Linked DNA regions of Homo sapiens: regions 2 and 3 are each reported to be linked to region 1. Evidence: microRNA targets listed by miRTarBase, many of them from high-throughput screens and not tested one by one. Region 1 holds a microRNA gene; each other region holds the end of a gene's coding sequence.

Evidence for each region. The annotated mature microRNA hsa-miR-6818-5p reads UUGUGUGAGUACAGAGAGCAUC and lies in region 1 at 5,226-5,247, opposite strand. An mRNA with a match to its seed (bases 2 to 7 or 8) in the 3' UTR can be bound and repressed. Matches are read on the target gene's strand: a 7mer-m8 pairs with bases 2 to 8, a 7mer-A1 pairs with bases 2 to 7 and ends in A, and an 8mer does both.
Region 2: the mRNA of ERVMER34-1 is a reported target of hsa-miR-6818-5p. The part of its 3' UTR that is shown has no 7-base or 8-base seed match.
Region 3: the mRNA of TSC22D2 is a reported target of hsa-miR-6818-5p. The part of its 3' UTR that is shown has no 7-base or 8-base seed match.

What each region holds. Positions count from the first base shown.
Region 1 is chr22:30,005,100-30,012,300 of GRCh38, reverse strand. MIR6818 (microRNA 6818) reads right to left here and starts at 5,252; the gene lies at 5,188-5,252. It overlaps MTMR3 (myotubularin related protein 3), which reads right to left. Exons shown (of 20, transcript NM_021090.4): 10 at 4,982-5,187; 11 at 4,269-4,400; 12 at 3,172-3,283. It overlaps HORMAD2-AS1 (HORMAD2 and MTMR3 antisense RNA 1), which reads left to right. Exons shown (of 5, transcript NR_110541.2): 5 at 3,105-3,555.
Region 2 is chr4:52,737,716-52,744,916 of GRCh38, forward strand. It overlaps ERVMER34-1 (endogenous retrovirus group MER34 member 1, envelope), which reads right to left. Exons shown (of 3, transcript NM_001242690.2): 3 at 4,838-7,201. The coding sequence ends at 6,114. Among named protein-coding and RNA genes, the nearest start is that of ERVMER34-1, 10 kb to the right of the region's middle.
Region 3 is chr3:150,457,617-150,464,817 of GRCh38, forward strand. It overlaps TSC22D2 (TSC22 domain family member 2), which reads left to right. Exons shown (of 3, transcript NM_001303264.2): 3 at 760-7,201. The coding sequence ends at 1,020. Among named protein-coding and RNA genes, the nearest start is that of TSC22D2, 53 kb to the left of the region's middle.

The DNA.
Region 1 (7,201 bases):
TGTCAAATGAAAAAGCAATTTCCAAAGATTTCTCTCTCCAAATATAACACTGCCAAAACAAAAAAATCTGTGTGTTTATAAAGCATGTCTCAGGATGAGGCCCAAGCCCTACTATACAATAGAGAAGAGCCTTAGAAATAGGGGCTACAATTAATAGCACACCTTTTGTTCCAAAATCTGTATGGATGATTCCCCGGGCAAAATATTTGACATTTTTCAGTCCATGGTATAAGGAAAGTGGCTCTTTCTGGAATCTTCTCCTGAATAAAAAATGTAGCCACTTCTGAGATGTAAAACAGAAGATATTTATATTTAATGATCAGCAACTACGCCCAACAAGTTCTCAAAAAAAAAAGAAAAGAAAAGAAAAGAAAAACTCATGAATACAAATATATCTATGAGACATAAGCTGGATGCCATATACAAGAATGGTACACACAACCCTGCCTATGACCCAGACTGTAACACTTACCACTGTTTAATTCTTTAATGTTTACTGACTAAAACAAGATGAGCCCAATCTGATAATTTATACTGATACAAATTAGTATACCAATGGCCACACAGTATTGCTGGGCTCAACACAGACTGGATTCAGCAGCGATCTAGGAAGAACCTTTTTTTGAAAGACTTTTAGAGGCCGGGCGCAGTGGCTCATGCCTGTAATCCCAGCACTTTCGGAGGCTGAGGTGGGTGGATCACTTGAGGTCAGGAGTTCCAGACCAGCCTGGCCAACATGGTGAAACCCCATCTCTACTAAAAATTCAAAAATTAGCTGGGCATAGTGGCACACGCCTGTAATCCCAGCTACTCAGGAGGCTGAGGCAGGAGAATCACTTGAACCCGGGAGGTGGAGGTTGCAGTGAGCTGAGATCAGGCCACCGCACTCCAGCATGGATGAGAGAGAGAGACTCCATCTCACTTTCGGAGTATCAGATAGCAGTAGCTGCCCCTTGGGAGTAATCACAAGCTAATCACACTTGCTTTTTAAACTCTGTTGCATTTTGTTTCTTGTGCTTTCCCTCACCCCTCCCAATCCCTAAAAAGGAGTTGATTTTTCCCAAATGTGATCAGATTTGTAGTTAAGATCACAAGTCAAGTCTTTCAAACACTGAGTCAGAGGAAGAAATAAACATTTCTGTCAGGGGACTGTGGGAAGGCTGTAAAGGCCTACTAAACCCTGTGGAATAAGTATGAAATTTTGGCATAGTCTAAGGAGGTGGGGGTCTTTCCAGGCAAAGAGACAACAGAATGCAGTGCATAAGTACTGGTTGTATATGGATTTGTTTGGACTACCAACCAGACTGTGACTCCTCAGAGGGCTAACACTATGTCTCAGTCATAACTGTACCCCCAGCACAGTGCCTAGCATACAGTAGGGAGTCCCACTGTTTAATGAATTGTAAGTCTGTTATGGGTAAAAATCCAATCGTAAGACTTTCTATCTCCTAGCAGGTACCTGAGAAACATTTTTTCCTGATGGATCAATTGTTTATTTCATTCCTCACATATTCTTGAAAGGAACTAAAAGATAAGGCTTAGGAGAACAAATACTAAATTATCTCCTAGCACCTGAAGAAATGGTAAACAAGAGAACCGGTGTGAGGTTCTTTTGAACCTAACTAAACTATTATTTAATACCAGTTGGTGTTGTCTGTGACTAATGAAGCTGTACTCCAAAACCTGCCAGCCAAGGAGGGGCTGCTGAGAGACTCCCCATTCCCTTGTCCTGTTCTCAACCTGCACTAGAAGCCTACCATTCCCCTATCCTCCACAGCCCCAAACACAGGCCGGGGGCCTAATTACAGCTGCCCATCACTGCTACAGCTGCTTTTTACCCATGAGGGAGACTTCAGTGCAGCATTATGATTTGCTGCCAAATACATAAAAGCATTACCTTTAATAAAATCCCCAAGACATTTATGTGGACCAGGTGAGGGCTAATTCTATCTTTTTTGACTCTGATAGCTCTTTAAGAATTTTAATATATGGAGGGTATTAGATCATGTAGTGTTGATTACATGTCTTTCATTTTATAGACAGGAAAACTGAGATCTACAGTAGTTAAACCCCTTGGCCAAGGTTACACAGTTCGCGGCCGATCTCCTGGGTCCTTAGTAAGGCTCCTTCTACATACCACCCTAGGGAAGAAAGCGCTGCTAGCTGGGACCTGGAACTGTGTAGCAAATGCAAATGGCTAATCCCCAAAGGAGGCAGCAAGCTCAATTCTCCGGTCAGGCTTTCCCCAAAGGCACTGCTTCATCCTCTTGGCTGATGACAACTACGGTGAATTTAATCATTTGCTACTGGCAGTCAATATAAGTGGTTTAGGCAGCATCTGATTTAATAAATCAAATAAAGAACGCAGTAAAACTTGATGTGATCATCAGATCTACTGAATAGGACCCAGAGAAACAACTATGGGCTCCAGCACAAATACCAGAAAAAAGAAAATTCTGTCTTCTCTGGCACCTATCTCTGGCTTCCTGAAATAGTAAAACAGGATTTTTAAATACTTATCTGTCCATATTTGTTTTACAGAGCATTCTTCCTAATTTATCTTGTATTCAATCAGTACCCTTGGAGGGGGTATTAGTTCACCTTCCTCACTGCAAATGCCAGCCATTCATATTTAATAAGCAATAAGAATCAGGATAATATGCTTAGTAAATGAGAACAGTTTAGAAATTGAAAGCAGATGTAAAAGGAACTGACTTAATGGCAAGTTTAAACCCTTTAGAACATGATGAATAAATTCTGACTTTTCATGATAAAACATCCCAGTTCAAAACAGGTTATGTATCACTATGGGACATCAGAAACTGAAGAATTAAATTTCTTTGGGCTAAAAATGACGTGGAAGGGAAAGGTCCCAGGACAAACAGTAAGGTAATGCTTCTGTTTTGATGCTGAGATTTCTTCTGTGCTGCAGATTTTAAAACCTTTCAAATGGCTGTATTTTCTCCCAACTCTTCCTCTGTGCTGCCACATTTCAGACCCAGCAAGGAGATACTTGCAGAGACTGGTCTGGTAACTGAAGATTACCAAGAAACAGAAGGAAAGACTGCTCCAAATTAATTTTTTTTTCTTTTTTTCCCCCTTAGTTCAAGGAAAGAAGCAAACTTATTATTTAAGAGCAATGCAAAATGAAAGCCAAGGCCAAGGACTTACTTTCCCGGATCTGGCATCTGAGTGCACAGCAACCGCAGAGACTGAAAACTCCTCCGAATAGAATGAATGTTTGCCATCCCCATAAACACAACTTCACAGTTTGGGTAATACTCTGGAGAGAGTAACAATAAAGAGAACACAAATACGTTGAACTTAAAGCCCACATGGCCAAATTTAAAAGCAAACTGGCTATAAAACAAACCCACTGCAGCTTCTGATTAACGAAACTGAAATGTTTTGAAATGCTTAACTATTAGCCCAATCCTTTATAATAAGAGGAACACACTGAATTTTAGCTATCTTTTCAAAAAGCGTGAAAAGGGAAGGTTAGATTTGTAAAGAAGATACTGACATAAAATAAAAGCTATTATTTTTTAAAAGAAAGGCCTACTTCGATCTCACTCTGGCTTTACTTCTTGGGCCTTATCTAACTTGTGGCTTTGAAATCTCTTTGAAAAGAACTCCACAGAACAATGCGTTCACACATTCAAATTTCACCTTGGTACAGCTGCTTTCAATTTCCAGCTTAGACCACATCTGAACAAAGAGCCTGGTGCCTCTGCCTGTGCCATAGGCACTGAGGGGGGTCCCTCCTTGGGGAAAGCTAGCATTCCAACAGTAATGGTGTTACAGCTCAGGACAGAGATACCTTACTAGGGTTCTGTATTTACTGCTTCAATTTTCACCCCAGGTTTTCTAAGGAGAGGCCCTTGAGGAGTTTGCTACAAGGCCAGTGGTGAGCATACCCTCTGTCAAAGGCAACAAAAAGCTTTTAGACGGCTGAGAAATTGAGCCCACTAAAGCAGCAGCTTCCAAACATGAACAGGTCTTATTATGGGGAAGATCTGCTTTCCTTATCACCTACAAGTTGGCACAAGGAAGGAAGATTATGTGACTTCACTGCACCTCCTCCTCCATTTCTCCTCAGAAAAGAACATACAGTGTTAAGAATCCAAAGAGAAGCTCTGGCACTCTCACGACAGGATGGATGAGGAATATGGCTTGCCACTTATTTCAAATTGGGAACTAAGTCTCAGTTGGGCAAGGGCTACACTCACAAGGAGAAAGTATGGGGAACAAAGCACCATACACCTCACCTGGGCATTCGCAGCCTCCTCCTTTGGCTCGGTTTGCCACAGCAGCTGCATAGGAGCGTGCATCCAAGATCAAAAGCTTCTGCGGTTGGATGGCTAAACTCTCTGCTCCTGAAGCATTTGACAGAGAAGAATCTAGGGACACAGAGGGAGAGGGCATACTAAATGAGCCTGTCTCTCCCAGAACTGTGCAGAATTAGACCCACAAGCACATCTTATGGCACAAAAAAGGCTCAATAAAATGAAATCCCCTAACCAAAACCCTTGATACATAGGATTTTTCTCTTTTTTTCTATGTGGCCTTCTTATGAAAGATGAGAAGGATTTATTCTCCAAAACTGACTCCCAGAGTACACATGGGGTTCACACAGCCCAGTCTCTTATACTTCATTTCTGTATCTGTTGTCCTTTCATGAAGCCTGGCATTTCCTGCCATGGTCTGCAGATACTGCAAGTCCTCTATTACATAAACACTCCATTTTTGTCACAATGGCAAGAAAGACAACAAACACACTAATATCTTGATTCAGGTTTGAAACAAAGGGTCTTCTGATTCTCTGCCAAGACCCATGACTCCTCAATCAATCCCATCAAGTGAAGCTCTGCACATTCACTTCTATAAAAGTAAATCTATGTCTTGTAAGGAAGAGGCCATTTCAAGAAAAGGTTCTTAGATGCTATAAAAATCATTGCCATGGGTCCAGGGAGCACCTTACCGAACTCCACGTCAGAAAGGTCTCCCCCATTGGGAAAGTCTCGAGAAGTGTTCCTAGTTGACAGCTTGCTGCCACTCGATCGGGAGTCAGAGGCACAAGCTTTGGCTACTGACTGTACCAGATGCTCATCATCTGCATTTCGCCAGCCCCACCAGCTAACCTCTGGCTGTCCACAGCGGGCAATGACAGCTCCATTGCTCTGGTGCCTGTGTGAGGAACAAGAGACAACAACTGTACCCATTCAGATGCTCTCTGTACTCACACAAAATAGATTTTAAGTGCCTTAATGAACAGTCTAATTCTAGGTAAGTGTTGGGTCAGCTTCAAGTCCTCTCAGTATTAAAGAGGGTAGAAATCTTACACAACCAACAAGAACAAACAACAAAACCTGTGTGTCTTTCTCAATTACCATAACATCACGGAGATCCCTGTAAAGTTACCCAAAAAAATGACTAACAGGGGTCAGGCATGGAGGCTCACTCTGCAATCCCAGCACTTTGAGAGGCTGAGGCAGGAGGATCACTTGAGCCCAGGAGTTCAAGACCAGCCTGAGCAACATAGCAAGACCCCATCTTTACAAAAAAGTTTTTACAAATTAGCCAGGCATGGTAGCACATGCCTGTAGTCGCAGCTACTCAGGAGGCTGAGGTGGAAGGATCCCTTGAACCCAGAAGGCTGAAGTTGCAGAAAGCTATGATTGTGCCACTGCACTCCAGCACTCCAGCTTGGGTGACAGAGCAAGACCCCATTTCCAAAAAACAAAAAAGAATTAATGTGTACTCTTAGTGAAAATAAATCAATATTCGTAACTTAAATCTATAGGTACTACACTAATTCTGCTACCCAATAGTGAAATCTGCTACCTTCTTAATGCTGAACCAAGAGCCCGCCTCTGGGAATAAAACATTTACCTGGCCCACAGTGAACTGCTTTACAAAATCTCCTGAGATTTCATGAGTCACAGACTGCTCTTATAATAGGCAGATAGCTCAATGAGCCAGCTACCCTTCCTAGGGCTCTTAAGAAAGAGAAGAAGAGCATCAACCTCAGAAAACCATACTCTGACATATCCTTTTCCAATAAGACAGACCAGAAATCACAGTCTACTTTAAGGTGCTATTAAAACCCAGACTTTTCCTAGTTAGGCAATTTTAACTGATAAAAAGTTAGAAAAATTCTATTACTTGGCAGTAAAGAGGAATAAAGTTCTGATACAGGCTAGGACACTGATGAACCTCAAATATGTTATGACAAGTGAAAGAAGTCAGTCACAAAAGGCAACTTATTGTACGACAATTAACATGAAGTATCCAGAATAGGCGAATCTATAAAGATGGAAGTAGATTTCTGCATGTAGTGACTATTATAAACTCGTAGTTACTTAAGGGAGCTTGCCTAATTCTAAGTTGGGGTTACTTAAAACGAGTATGTTTCTATATAAAACTGAAGCACTCTATGTTTTACTAGCAGGGGCTTCATCCATTGGACATCTTAATTATTCAGGGCTAGGGTGGCTGGGTGCCCTGTGAATGGGTTTTTTGGGACGATGAAAATGTACTGTAATTTGTTTTTACTCCTAAAACTCACAAATAAGTTAAATTTGGCACTAATCAAATTCCACTGAAATCACCAGTTTGCTTGTAGTTTTTAAAGCCTCCCTCCCTGGGAGACAAGTAGCTGTAAGTACTTGTGTATTGCCAACATGCTCAACTGGCTCACGTGCTGAATGGGGCCAAAATAGAAATAAAACCTCAATGATTCTTTATAAAATGTCTCCTAGCAAATAACAGGCAACCACTGAGCTGAATGACTCCAAACCCTGCACAAGAGGCTGGTTGGGCCTTTCCTGAACATCCTCCTCTTCTTCAATGCTTCCCAGCAGTGCCCAAGAGGAGCAGTAGATGGCGCTCTTCAGCCTGGATCTTGGGTTTTAGGGGACACTGCATTATAGTAGCTATTAGATTTCAACTGGACTATTGCAATAAACAATTATGTTTTCTGCAGTCTTCTAAAATGCTTCAGACTACATGAAAGATAATTCAAACACTACAGTTAAAAATCACTAAAGGAATGCATTTCTATCACTAACAGAACCAGGCAAAGTATAAAAATTATGATGTCCAACAGATAAAGCCCTCCCTACTAAAACACAGAATGCTTCAATTTTATATAGGAACAGAATTGTCTTAAGTAACCTCAACTTAGATTTAGGCAAGCTCC
Region 2 (7,201 bases), not on the chromosome of region 1:
TGTGTTGTGGAAATTGAGTTGAAGGAGCTTGCTGGTTGATTGGATGTGTTGGAAAAAAGGGAAAGAAAGGAATAGTGAAAGACCACCTGAGTTTTGGCATGAGCAACTGGGTGGAATAGTGTCATTATTCATTGAGATAAGGAAAACTGAAGAATAAGTCTGGGGGAGGGAGCTGAAAGTGAAGTTTGTTCATGCTAAGGTTGAGATGCCTCTTCAGCATCCAAGGGGAGATGACAGATAAGTACAAAGAGACATGAGTTTGGAGTTGAGTAGTGAAATCCAGGTTTGAGATACAGATTTGGGAATCATTGCTGGAGACTCAAGAGAGCCAATTGTGTAGTTCCTGTTTAAGGGCTGGTAGGCTTGAGACCCAGAAAGAGCTGAAGGCAAGGGGGAAAGGTCAAATTCACAGGCAGTCAAGCAGGAAGAATTCTCTTCCTCAGGGGAGGGTCAGCCCTCTTATTCTCTTTAGGCCTTCAGCTGATTGGATAAGGCCCACTCACATTAGGCAGATAAATCTGCTTTACTCGGTATTCCCATTTAAGTGTTAATTTCGTCCCAAAACACTTCTACAGAAACACTCAGAATACTGTTTAATCAAATATCTAGGTGCTCTGTAGCCCAGTAAAGTTGACACAAAAATTAAGCATCACACTGTGATTCAGGGAAGGTGTTTGGAAAGAGGGAGTGGCCAACCATTAAGACTGGCACTGCACGATGTGTTAAGAAGTTTATAGACCATTTATTTGGCAAAAGGGTTTTTTGAATATCTTTGTAGAAATTATTAGGAAGACAGAAGGTATGAAAGGGCAGAGTATTTCCTTAAGATACATTTCCTGTGAAATTACTCTGCCAATGAAAATGAAATTTTAAATATCCTATTATACATGGTACATTTGCTTCAACCTTTCTGAAGGATAGTTTAATACAGAAAAAAAACTCATTAAAAAAGGCAACTAGGTTTAACATACATAAACTATATATGTATATATTTACACATCTGTTTAATTTGAGGATGTAAAATACTATTACTTTTTAAAGCTTTTTACTCTGAATTATATATTTAAAAAAAAACAGTGCAGAGAGATTCCACGTAGCCTTCACCCAAATTCTCCCAAGTGGAAGTCACTATAGCACAAAAACAAAACTAGAAAATTGACATTGAGCTGTGTGTGCCAATATTACATCATTCTGTGTCATTTTGTCATGTGTAAATTCATGGAACCATCACAACTCAGATATAGAATTATTATGTCACCACAAAGATCTCACTCAAAAAGTGTTATGTCCTAAGGCTTTCGTTTGGAAAACAGAAAAAAAAATCATCCACATTTCCTCCCAAACAATTATTTTTATTGCATATATTCCCTCACAGTTGTAATTACTGTATATCATAATATTTTCTTAACAGCAAATGCACATTTTCTTCACCTTTGACTTTGTACACCTCTAGGTTTTGAAAGCAAATCGACCCATGCTGCAGGATTATCACAGGGTTGTTGCCACCCCTGAAATATTCCTTGTGGTAGTACTGATTGCTGGTTAAGATGGCTACATTTAAATACTCATCTTCTGAAGCTTTCTGTGGAGAAATTAAAAAACATATATCTTGTATAAAGTCATAGATAACAATCAAAAGAATAAAAAGTATTTGTTCTTCAGTAGTCCATCTGTGTAACTATCATTAGAATTGTATGAGGAGCCTAGCCCAATTACTTTTCATGATTTAAGTGAATTTAGCATTTTCTTGTTGCTTGTACTTTGTATGTAGATTCTCTAGATGCCAATAATGATGGGTTAACTTTTAAAGAAGTGAATATATATACACATATGTGTATATACCTATATATAAATTGAGGAGACGATTTAACTTTTGAAAACGATGTCTTGACTGAATACTGCAAAGCCAAAGACAAAAAAGCAAACGCTGTATTCTAATTGGTTACTTTGTTTCTCATAAAGGGACAGGTTAGCAATTATGTAACTATGTTATGTAACTAGTTTACACATATAGTAGAGTTTAACAAATAAGCAAATAAATCTTAGCTAATAGGAGACAGGTTTCTCAGCAACAGAAAAGTTACAAATAAGCAAGGGGTAAGGTGAGGCTAGAATGAATCCTGTGGTGCTGAGAGTTGGAGATATCAGTATAAACTCGTTTATTTCAATAAACTGTAGGTATATATGTATAGGTATCTGTGTATACATACAAACATTTCCTAGCTGTGTCCACTGAGGGGGCCTACACAGTGATAACCTAGTAGCAGTAGCAATGAGCACATCTTGTGCCCAGATCTTGGTTTCTAAAACCATTTTTCAGTACAGGGAACAATGGTTTCTTGGGAAAAAAAAATCACTGATTCTAGGGCTGGGCAGGAAAAATAAAAGATGAGCTTGCAGCATATTGGAGCGCTGGAGAGTAAGGAAGTGCTGAAAAAAAAAAAATAAGGCCAAACAAACAAAAAACACATAGGGAGAGGCATGTCAAAAGGAAACAGGAACAAATTTTCCAAGAGCTCTCAAAGGCCAAAGCTGCAACACTTTGAGCAACAGTATGATAGTACTGGATTACAACCCAAAGAACAATGTATATATCCATGAGTCCACACTGATAAAAAATATTGGATAACAATTTTCCTTAAGTAAGCTTCTAATTAATAAATGTATCAGGAAATAGGAAGGTGAAACATCTGGTGAACCTTTGAGCTGGCTAATAAATGTTTTTGCCAACCAACCTATTTTGTGTTCCTTCTGATGCATAACAATGGAAAGAGGATTTTTTTCCCCTATGAGTTTTGAAAATCAGAAATACCTTTGTGTCCATCACCAGTAATGTTGAAACTATTTTCTATAACTTGTCATGCCCTACAAACCTTACTTTAATCAAATATTGTGCAGCTTAACACACCTCATAATCAGTCATGCTATTTGATGAAACTTTATCCTTTTAATAAGACATTTTCTAACATTCCAATGACTGCCCCTTTATTTCATATTTCCTCTTCACTTTGTATTCGTACTTGACATTGTGAAATGAGGACCAGGCCAGGTGCGGTGGCTCACACCTGTAATCCCAGCACTTTGGGAGGCCAAGGCGGGCGGATCACCTGAGGTTGGGAGTTCGAGACCAGCCTGACCAGCATGGAGAAACCCTGTCTGTACTAAAAATACAAAAAATTAGGTGGGCATGGTGGTGCGTGCCTGTAATCCCTGCTACTCAGGAGGCTGAGGCAGGAGGATCACTTGAACCCAGCAGGCAGAGGTTGCGATGAGCTGAGATTGTGCCACTGCACTCCAGCCTGGGCAACATGAGTGAAACTCCGTCAAAAAAAAAGGAAAGAAAGAAAGAAGGAATGAGAGAAAGAGAGAAAGAGAGAGAGAAAGAAAGAAAGTAAGGAAAGAAAGAAAGAGAGAGAGAGAGAAAGAAAGGAAAGGAAAGGAAAGAAAGAAAGAAAGAAAGAAAGAAAGAAAGAAAGAAAGAAAGAAAGAAAGAAAGAAAGAAAACCAAGTACCACAAATACCCAATACTGAAAGTTGCATTTCTTTTAATGGCTTCTCTAGTTTCAATGCATATTGCATAACAAACACAGGAAGTCCTATATCTTTCAGCTCAAGGAGGCTTTCTCTTGTGTCCTATATTGCTGAAAGTTTTTATTACCTTCTTTTGTGTGTGTGTGTGTGTGTGTTTTGTGCTTTTTGGGGTTTTTTTTTGAAACAGAGTTTCGCTCTTGTTGCCTAGGCTGGAGTGCAATGGCATGATCTTGGCTCACCACAATCTCCGCCTAGTGGGTTCAAGTGATTCTCTTGCCTCAGCCTCCCGAGTAGCTGGGATTACAGACATGCACCACCAGGCCTGGCTAATTTTGTATTTTTTTTTTTTTTTTTTTTTTAGTAGAGATGGGGTTTCTCCTCGTTGGTCAGGCTGGTCTCCAACTCCTGACCTCAGGTCATCTGCCTGCCTTGGCTTCCCATAGTGCTGGGATTACAGGCATAAGCCACTGCACCCAGCCTACCTTCTTTTGATATCAACATTACTATGAACAACAAACCCATCTATAAGGGTTCTATTGTTCCAGAGTATGAGTTTTCTTTTCTTTATCTTTTTGAGACAGAAGCTCACCCCATCACCCAGGCTGGAGTGCAGTGGCACAATCTTGGCTCACAGCAGCCTCGACCTCCCAGCCTCAAGTGATGCTCCCACCTCAGCCTCCTGGGTAGCTCGGACTATAGGCACATGCCACCACACCTGGCTAATTTTTTGTAGAGACAGGGTTTCACCAGGTTGCCCAGGCTGATTTCCAACTTCTGGGCTCAAGCGATCCACCTGCCTCAGCCTCGCAAAGTGCTGGAATTACAGGCATGAGCCACCACACCCAGTCTGTGCTTTTTTTTTTTTTTTTTTTTTTTTTTGCCACAGAATCTCACTCTGTTGCCAGGCTGGAATACAGTGGTGCGATCTCAGCTCACCGCAACCTCCGCTTCCTGGGTTCAAGCGATCCTCCTGCCTCAGCCTCCTGAGTGGCTGGGACTACAGGTGCCTGCCACCATGCCCAGCTAATTTTTGTACTTTTGGTAGAGATGGGGTTTCACCATGTTGGCCAGGATGGTCTTGATCTCTTGACCTCGTGATCTGCCCACCTTGGCCTCCCAAAGTGCTGGGATTACAGGCGTGAGCCACCGTGCCCAGCCATCCATGTTTTCTTAATGTAACTTGAAATGATTATTCTGTTAATAAATTATCAATCTGCTATGTTCATAAATTTGTTTATGTGCAACCTTAAAAAGGAGGTGAGAATCTCACAGTCCATTCCTCTTACATGTGAATCACTTTCAATTGTGAATGGCTTTTCCTGTTTTATTTGCAAATACATACACATATACATATCATTTCCCCTTTTTTAAAATAAAAAGTAACATACGAGGCTGGGTGCAGTGGCTCACACCTATAATCCTAGGACTTTGGGAGGTTGAGGTGGGCGGGTCATGAGGTCAGGAGACTGAGACCATCCTGGCTAACACGGTGAAACCCCGTCTCTACTAAAAACACAAAAAATTAGTCAGGCGTGGTGGCAGGCGCCTGTAGTCCCAGCTACTCAGGAGGGAGGCAGGAGAATGGCATGAACCCAAGGGGGCAGAGGTTGCAGTGAGCCGAGATTGAGCCACTGCACTCCAGCCTGGGTGAAAGGGCCAGACTCTGCCTCAAAAAAAAAAAAAAAAGAGTAACATACTAGGTATGCTGTTCTGCATCTTGCTATTTTTCAGTAATAGTATAATCTTTAGCAAGCTATCTACCCTTTGAGTTGATTAATCTGTAAAATATGAACACCGAGAGGATTAACTAGAAAGATGCATGTAAGGAACTCACCAGAGGACTGGGCAGAGTGAAGCATTTGATATAATAGATGCCACCTCAACACTCCCTGCATCCTACTTCCACCTGCGGCCCATTTCATAAGATGGCTAAAATGCATATCAGACTAATATTCCATTAGACCACTAAAATGCCCATGGGAAATCAGGAAAGCTCAGATCATACCAGCCTAAATTATTTGTGGCTTTCTCCCTAAAGTAAGTTTTCAGTCAATTCTGATGACTACCCAATATTTATTCTTTGAGACAAATTTAAGGACATAGTTTTGTGTATGTGTACATTGGATTCTTCTACCTTCAACCAAAATCAAGGGAACAAAATTCCCTTATCTATTCAAACACACTCTTTGGTCTATCCAGAAGCCTACAAAGTGCTGTTGGGAGAAACTATCCTGCCCCCAACTTAGTTCCAGTGTTTGGGGGCTTGCAAATTAACAGATCAATAGAAAAAACATTTATTATATATGCATGCAAGAACACTACAAAGAGTAGCTCTCTGAACAGCAAGGGGTAAGGGTTTACAGATCAGCTTTATGGTGTGTGTCTTAAGGCTTCAGAATGAAACTACAAAAAGTTCTGATAAGGCTTATTTACAATACCTTGGGAGGTCCTAGTGCTAAGTGCCCTTATAAGAGGAACACTCAGAGGAGGGTTTTGGCAGCTGAATTCTCGGTAAGACCTGCTTTACTCATCAAAGTTTAGCTAAGGCTTTTTGTCTGCAGCTGCTGTTTGTTCAGATATTCTCAAAGTAGACTTGTGTCATATTGATGGGTTGTTAGTCCCTTCATTGCCCTATTTGAAACTTGACATGAAGTTTCACTGACAAGGAGCTGTGCTGATTGCTGTGGAGATAAGGCTAGGTTCAGAGGTTGGGAGTTAAGGGATCTGCGAGATTTGCGAAAGACACGAACATAGATTAAAACAAAGATGAATAAGCAGAAAAGAACAATTAAAAGCACATAGCCCCATGATCTGAACCAGTCTCCCACTTTTGCAAATATGCCTTGCCAATCAAGTAACGGTACATTCTTCAGGTTCTCGGATGCTTCGTGGAGACGCTGTATATTAGACTTTATTTCTTCCGAATAATTTATATAGAGGCAACACTGTTTGCCAACAGTTCCACAAGCCGTTTGTCGTTGGGTGGTCGGTATATCCAAGACATGATCCTTTCGGGATGCAGAGGCTAAACTGCTAACTTTTGATTGGTGTGCTTCCAAGGTCTGCTTAGTGGCACTGAATTCCTGTTCCATTGCTTTGGAAATGTTTAGAATTGCCTTTTCTAAATCATAAGTTCCCAAACTTGGAAAAAGGGCCCTTATTGTTGAATTGTCCTTGGGGTTGCAATACAGAGGTGGATTGTCTGTGTCTCCTTGGGTGCATCTATGCGGTGTTACTTTATGAATGAAGGATCTCAGGTTTGTAATTTGGCTAGCATTTAAGGTGAGGTATCTGGTGAGGGAAGGTACAAGATACCCAAGTCCACATCGCCCAGACCATTTAGGTGGAAACCCTTTGTACACCCCATTGCCGCACAAAAAAAAGAGGCCAGAGTTGTTCACAGACAAGGTCAGATTGGAACCTGTGAGCCACCAGGTGGGGGTCCGGTGTCCATCATGACCTTTGTCATTAGTTATGCTGGCATCTGCACATCTCCATTTCCCATGTGCCTCTGTCAGGCCATAAGAGCAAAATAGGTTGCGAAATAGCTGGTACAGAAGGCCTTTGGTTTGGTTTTGGCAGCTATAGAGACAGGTGTCATTACCTGACCAGGTCAATCCAGAATTTCGATCTACCCATTTGTAGTCTTGGGTATTGGGCAGACCAATCA
Region 3 (7,201 bases), not on the chromosome of region 1:
CCCGTCTCTACAAAAAAAGTTGGTATTTTTGTTTGTTTTGAGATAGTCTCGCTCTGTCACCCAGGCTGAAGTACAGTGGCATGATTTTGGGTCACTGCAACCTCCACCTCCCAGGTTCAAGTGATTCTCCTGCCTCAGTCTCCTGAGTAGTTGGGAGCACAGGCACACACCACCACATCTGGCTAATTTTTGTATTCTTAGTAGAGACGGGGTTTCACCATGTTGGCCAAGGTGGTCTCAAACTCCTGACCTCAGGTGATCTACACGCCTCAGCCTCCCAAAGTGCTGGGATTACCGGTGTGAGACCTTACAGGACTGTTAGTCTCAAACTATTTTTTTAAAAATACCAAAATTTTAAAGTCCAAAATTACAGATCACTTTAAAGCAGTACTATGACTAGTTTAACATCAAACAGCTTTCCGTTGGAATATTGTTCCTTTGTTCTCTTTATCTACCATTTTAAGCATGTGATTTTAAACTTTTTTTTTTTTTAATTCTAAGCTTAGTTGACAATTTAAGAAGCTAGTATTTTTTGGAAATCGTCCCAAACTTTGAAAAGAAAATTCTGGGCTTACTGCTCTGGTTGGGAACTGGATTTTTTCCAACCCATCTTCCATAGGCTCGGTCAAGATAAAGCAGAAACATTAAAAGCAAGAGCAGGAAAACTAGTATAAAAACTTAGCACCAAGTAGGCCAGAACCAGATAGCACCACCTTTATCTTTTCACTCTTTTGACATTCCTAATTTTGTTTTTCACAGGATCTGGTGAAAAGCCATTTGATGTATGCAGTAAGAGAAGAAGTGGAAGTTTTAAAGGAACAAATAAAAGAATTAGTTGAAAGAAACTCTTTACTTGAACGAGAAAATGCACTGTTAAAATCTCTTTCAAGCAATGATCAATTATCCCAACTCCCAACCCAACAGGCCAATCCTGGTAGCACTTCTCAACAGCAAGCAGTGATAGCACAGCCTCCGCAGCCAACGCAACCTCCACAGCAGCCGAATGTCTCCTCAGCATAAAGCTTTCTTAAGCCTCATTAAGAAAAAAACTGAAAGCAATCTATCCTTGTGTGCCACTGGTGTTCTTTCCACTTTATACGAAAGCAAGTAGCCATGCTTTGGTTGTGTGTTTGGCCTTTTCAGTATTAGACAATCATTCTACAAGAGCTTTTCCTCTCTCTGAGATGTCATGCAGCGCTGTTGATGTCCAGTTCTATGTCATCAGTACACAAGGAGAATAATAGATGGGGTTTATTAAAGCGAGCAAAGTCTGCATTTTACCTGGTGCGCATGAGTGGGGTCTTTAAGAGTTTTGGTGGCTCTCCCATGTTTCCTATTACCCATGGATTTACCCTGAGCCTTCCTATCACATTATAAATAACAGTTCATCTAAAGAGCCACTTTTCTTTCTGATTCAGTAACATTTGCCTACATAAGTTTTCATTTATTTGTGTTTTATTTATTACAGGGCTGCTATTTTCATAATGTACATGAACAATGTCACAGAACTTTTTTAATTTTTTTGAATAATTATAAGTATCAGTAAAGGAAGTGAAAGACAGGATTGCATTTAATAGATAAAACGTTTAGGCAATAATTGAACAAAAGAATCCTGGCATATTTCTAACACTAATGGCAATTTACTTATGGTATTTATTTTCAGTAGTAAAGACCCAGCTTGAATGTAAATTTTGTATAGTGTAAGTATGAAGAACATAGTGCAACTGTACAGGTAGTCACCAGTTATTGTGATATGATAAATAATTGGGCTATTTTGATGAAGAAAACTTTGTTCATTTGTTTCTACTTTCTAAGAGAAATTGCCACGATTCCTCTGCTTTTCAACATTTCGTATGACTTTTTTTTCGGGTGGGAATAAAAAGCTGTGAAATTGTTCAACCTACTTTGTAACCAAAGAAGCAAAGCTGTGTAATGGAGTTTGGTTTTTTTTTGTTGTTTTTTTTTTTTTGTCTTTTTTTTTTTTTATAATGCACATTCTTTATGTATTTTTATTTAGTGTTTTCTCAGTCACAATTTTCTTTACTGTCTAGCATGATCTGCATGACCTATAATCTTTGAACCACTTTCGTACCTCATGTTTTTATCCAGCACTCTTATTGTAATATGTACTAGTCTGTGAACAATGTCAAATAAAAGAGAACGAACAGGTAGTTTGGTGGAGCTGAGCTAGTGTACAATACACTAGTTGTAAAAAAAAAAAAAAAAAAAAGTGAGCCATCTTTTGTTCATTTAAAATGGTGTTTTGAATTTCGTATGCAGAAAACGTTTTGTTACATTGCAGATTTTAATGTATTTAATAAATGCAACATGCAGATTAAGTGCAGTGTATACTGAGTATTTAAATTAAAATGTACATTTCATAAATACAGTTTCAAAAGAAAGCATCATTTTGTGTATACTAACACATTAAGTGTATGTCAGAAATTGATGTATAAATATATATTTTAACATTTTCTGAAATTAAACTGCAGTTTTGTTGAAATATTTGGCTCTATATGTGTTCAAAATTTGACTAGATTTGTATTTTCACAGTTCAAAATACTCCTTAAAGACCTGTTAATAATGACTTACTGATAGTTCTTAAATTTTCAAAGTAAAACAATTTAAAGAATGCAAAAATAGTGAGCAATATTTGTACTCAATATTCATATTATGTTAGTGATACTTAAGTAGGAAATCCTTGTCTACCAAAACTTTTACTTGAATTCAGAAAGGTGCCTGTAGAAATTAACATGCACTGCATCTGTAGCCAGCTAGCTAATCAGAGTTAATGAGAACCAGTAGTTAGTTCTCCGTGTTAAAAGACTTATTTGAAGTAAAAATTTAATCAGATTAGCCACAAACAAACAAGGCATAAAATTGGGATGTACATGAGATTGCCAAATATTTTCTATTCTAGTTGTGCTGCAAGACATTGAACAAAATGTTAATGAATAACATTATAAATCAAGGAACTAAGTACATAGGCTTGAGTAAGCAACCCTAAGGATGTGTAGTAAGATTCCAAGTAGAGCTGCTACAGGTGAGATACTTAATGGAATGTGAAACTTCACTGTTGGACTGTTAACCGAAAAGGTTTGCTGGCTGTGCCCCTCCAGTGCTAACTGTGACATGTGATATTTAATACAGGTGGAGAAAAACTAGTCTTAGAAATGGGATTTTTGTGAAAATAGATTCCATTTTGATTCTGGGGCTGGAAAAACACTTCATAAACAAAGTAATAGTCTCCAAGGAAATGAATAATAAGGTTTAAAATGGTAACAGCAGTTATTACTACTTTTATATTAAGAAAAACAGTAGAAAAGGAGAGAAAATATGGGTAGTTCACAGAAGAGATAAATGGCAGTTTCTAAAGGTTCAACCTCTAGTAACCTAAGAAATGCAAATTAATGTTTTTGGCGAATTGTAATAAGTGTCCTAAGTAGCAGGACTTAACATAGAAAGAAAGACAGGCTTTCCTGTGTACTTTTAGAAAGTAATTTGGCAGTATGTATCTAGAGCCTTAAATAATAAGCTTTCCAGTGTAACGACAGGAGAAGATACTCAACTCATGGTCCATTGTTCAAAAATGCAGAATTATTGTGGTGTCTGCCCTCTGCTTTCCCATCATCCCCTCCCCTCAAAATCCAAACTATCCCTACTGTCAACCCTTCCCCCAGCTGATTGTTTAGGATCTTAAGTAACTTCCAATTCAGCTTTGGAGATTTAGTCTCCTGCTCCAAATAGTTGTAAATATTAACTGATTGAGATCCCAATTTGGAGGCACAGTCTTACAGGAATGCCATCTATCTAATTCTGTCAGTGTAATGCCCATAGAGCAAGGTCCCACATAAGCTTTTCTGTTTTAATTTAGCCGGTAAATCATAAGTAGAAATTTTTCTGATACGGTAATTGTCTACAATTCAAACCTAACTTTCCCCAAATAAAATTTAGTTTGTTCCGATGTGATCTCACAGCTTGCCACACCAAAAACAAATAGTAGGGGTTAGGAGGCATTAAATAAACAGTTTCCTTAACTCCTGATTGTCCAAAATAGCTGAATTTTTCCAATTCTATTTATAATATCCTATGCTAATTAGAAGTATTGAGATAACGTTTTATAATCAAGCCTCCAGTGACTGGGGATCACAGCTGCCATTATTCACAAGAATTTTCACAGGTGAATGATTATATTTCTCCAAGTTGCAAACTCCAGTAATTCATGGACCTTTTTTTAAAAAAAAAAAAAGTCTTAATAGAACCAGAATATCTCTGTTCTTGAAAATTTATCTTTGCAGAACCAGAAATAGCTAATTGTCTGGAAACAATTTTTAAGATTTGAAGTCACATTTTTAAAAGAAGCTTTATGGCTCAGTGGCAAGCACTTTGTGACATTTCTTTAATAATCCTATGAAAAGGACAAAACCCAGCCCTCAAAATTGACAATTTGAGGACATAATAAGCCAACTGATAATGCAGTGAGGAATACTTGTTACTATGTACAGTCAGGGATGGTTTTGTCAGGGTAGGTTTCCTCAAAAACATGACACCTGAGTCTTGAAGGTCATAAGAGCCAGAGGGAAGGGTGTTCCAAGCACAAGAAAAGAGAACTCAATGGCTTAAAAGTATAAACAAGGCTCCTAGGGCAGCCACAGAATTGCATTGGAGACAGGCAGGCAGTGACTTCCCCACTGACCTAGTATTTTGGCATCTATTCAGAAAGCAAGAATGATTTATTGAATGGTTTTAAGCAATGGGATACTATGCTCAAATTATGCTGGATGTGCACAATTCCAGTGGCAGATGGGAGGTAGGTTAGAGTAGCTGAAACTGGAAGCTGAGAAATAATTTAGGAGGGATGACAATCCGGAAAATAAATGAAAGGGCAAAATTACATAGGCAATTTTGTGAAGGTCATGAAGGAAGTTTGTCTTGGGTCTTTCTGTACCATTTTCCTCTCCACAATGAACATCCCATTCCCAGTGTCAGGTATCAGGTGCCTATTTTCTTTTTTTCTTTTTTCTTTTTTTTTTTTTTTGAGACAGAGTCTTGCTGTGCTCAGGCTGGAGTGCAGTGGCAAGATCTCGGCTCACTGCAACCTCCGCCTCCCAGGTTCAAGCGATTCTCCTGCCTCAGCCTCCTGAGTAGCTGGGATTACAGGCGTGTGCCACCATGCCAGGCTAATTTTTGTATTTTTAGTAGAGACAGGGTTTCACCATGTTGGCCAGGTTGGTCTTGAACTCCTGACCTCAAGTCATCTCCCCCGCCCGCCTGGGCCTCCCAAAGTGTTGGGATTACAGGCGTGAGCCACCGCACCCAGCTGCCTATTTTCTTGTCCCTCCAAAAAAAGATTAAAGAGTCCCAACTCATACTTGAAAGTTTGACTCGGTCTTTTCCTTCCAACAGTTATAAATCTGTGAAATGAAAGTCTTTGTTTCCTTAAAGGGATTTCAAGAATTTAACAAAAGGGTTGGGGAATGGAACCTTTGCTGTCACTATGCCTGTCTCTCAATTCTACCCTAAAGGTAAACTAAATGGAATCCTTTTATGGTGACTAGGATTAGGATGTTGATTCCAAAGCCTTTCCCTAAAATCTATTCCTTGCTCCCTGGAAAGGATAATACAGGTTCTGGCCCCCACTGTAGGTACTGACAGCCCAAGGCAGAATAGGTTTTGCTAGGCTTTAGCCTTTTATTCTTTGACATAGGTCAGTCCTGCAGGCTTCTTTTTTCTAAGTCTCCTGCCTATCCAAAACCAGACCTTTTCTCCCACCTCCTTCTGCTTCAAGCCTCTTAATAATCCATATTTCTATTTTCTAGCAATAGTAATAGTTTATTATTTAGTGATGTATACTTGCACCCCATTTACTCCTTTTCAATATTTCAGGATACATCTTTGTCCTGTATTTCTGTACCAGTTCACAGAATTTCTACAGCAAGATCCCTTTAAATGTATGGCTTTCCTTCATAGGTTGCAAGGATTACTTTATACAAGTGCTACTGTAACTATATCTTTTGTGGAGTACAATTGGTATGACATGCTGTGTTCATAGATGAAAATGCTAAGTGAGGCACTCTGAAGCAAGTTAAAGTTCACAGACATTCTTGCTTGCCCACCACCCCCCCGAACCCCGCCATGGAATCATCAAATAAGAAAAATAAGACAGATTTTCAGATTGGTGATGGCAAAGTAAGACGCTGGTATTTTGCACTGGCGCAGTCCATTTAGTTGTTGAATTTGTTCAGCATACCTGGATGGTGAGTGAGTTAGCTTTATTTTTCATTCTCAGCAGGGAAACTGATAGACTAGGCAGTTTGGGGAATTTTCCCATTGTCTACTGTCATGGGTCCATAGTATTTAAGTTTACAGACTACAACATTGTCCACAGAAGCCATATTTATCCCCTTGGAGGGAAGGGAAAGGTGTGCTAACTTAGATCATAAAAACAACTGAATTTTAAAACAAGGCAAATGCCACAGTTCAACTTCTCCATAAAAAAGTTAAGTTCATCTCTCCATTCTTTTGCATGCCTACAATATTTCCATATAACAACTGTAAAATACTCTTGCCTGCTGCAATCCAAATGTTATCCGGATCACAGTTCTTGCTGTCATTTCACAGGCATGCAATGTATCTATAGATAGGTCATATCATACCTGAGGAAGATCAGAGACAGCAAGGGAACATTTTCCCCACACTTGAGATGGAAATAATAACAGGTCAGTGGCTAATAAAAAGAAACATGTATGACTTTGTAAAACCCTAAAAGTGATGTTTTCAAGAAATTTAGGTTTCTTTTTTTTATTTTATAAAAAAAATGTTGACATGCAATTTAATTCTATTTCAATTTAGGTGCTGCAACCTGTACTGGATGTTTGGGGATAGAAAGATGAATGGGACATGATTTGTGTGCTCCAATGAGCTCAGTCCAGTGTAAGTGTAAAAGTTAAAGTGCCATATTGTTTATTCAGAGTATATGTTATAGTTTGTGAACCTTATATCATTTGTTAAATGAAAGGTTTTTATAAATCAACAGTAATATTGCCATCCCATGTAAAAATCCTTTGATATTGCCAGGAAACAACTTTAAATCACCAGAAAGCTTTAACATCAAATAATACTTTTAGAAGGAGGGGAAAAGCCTTCCACCTCGACATCGAGCCTATGAAGTATTCCCTAAAAAAGAGGAACTAATCTGAGA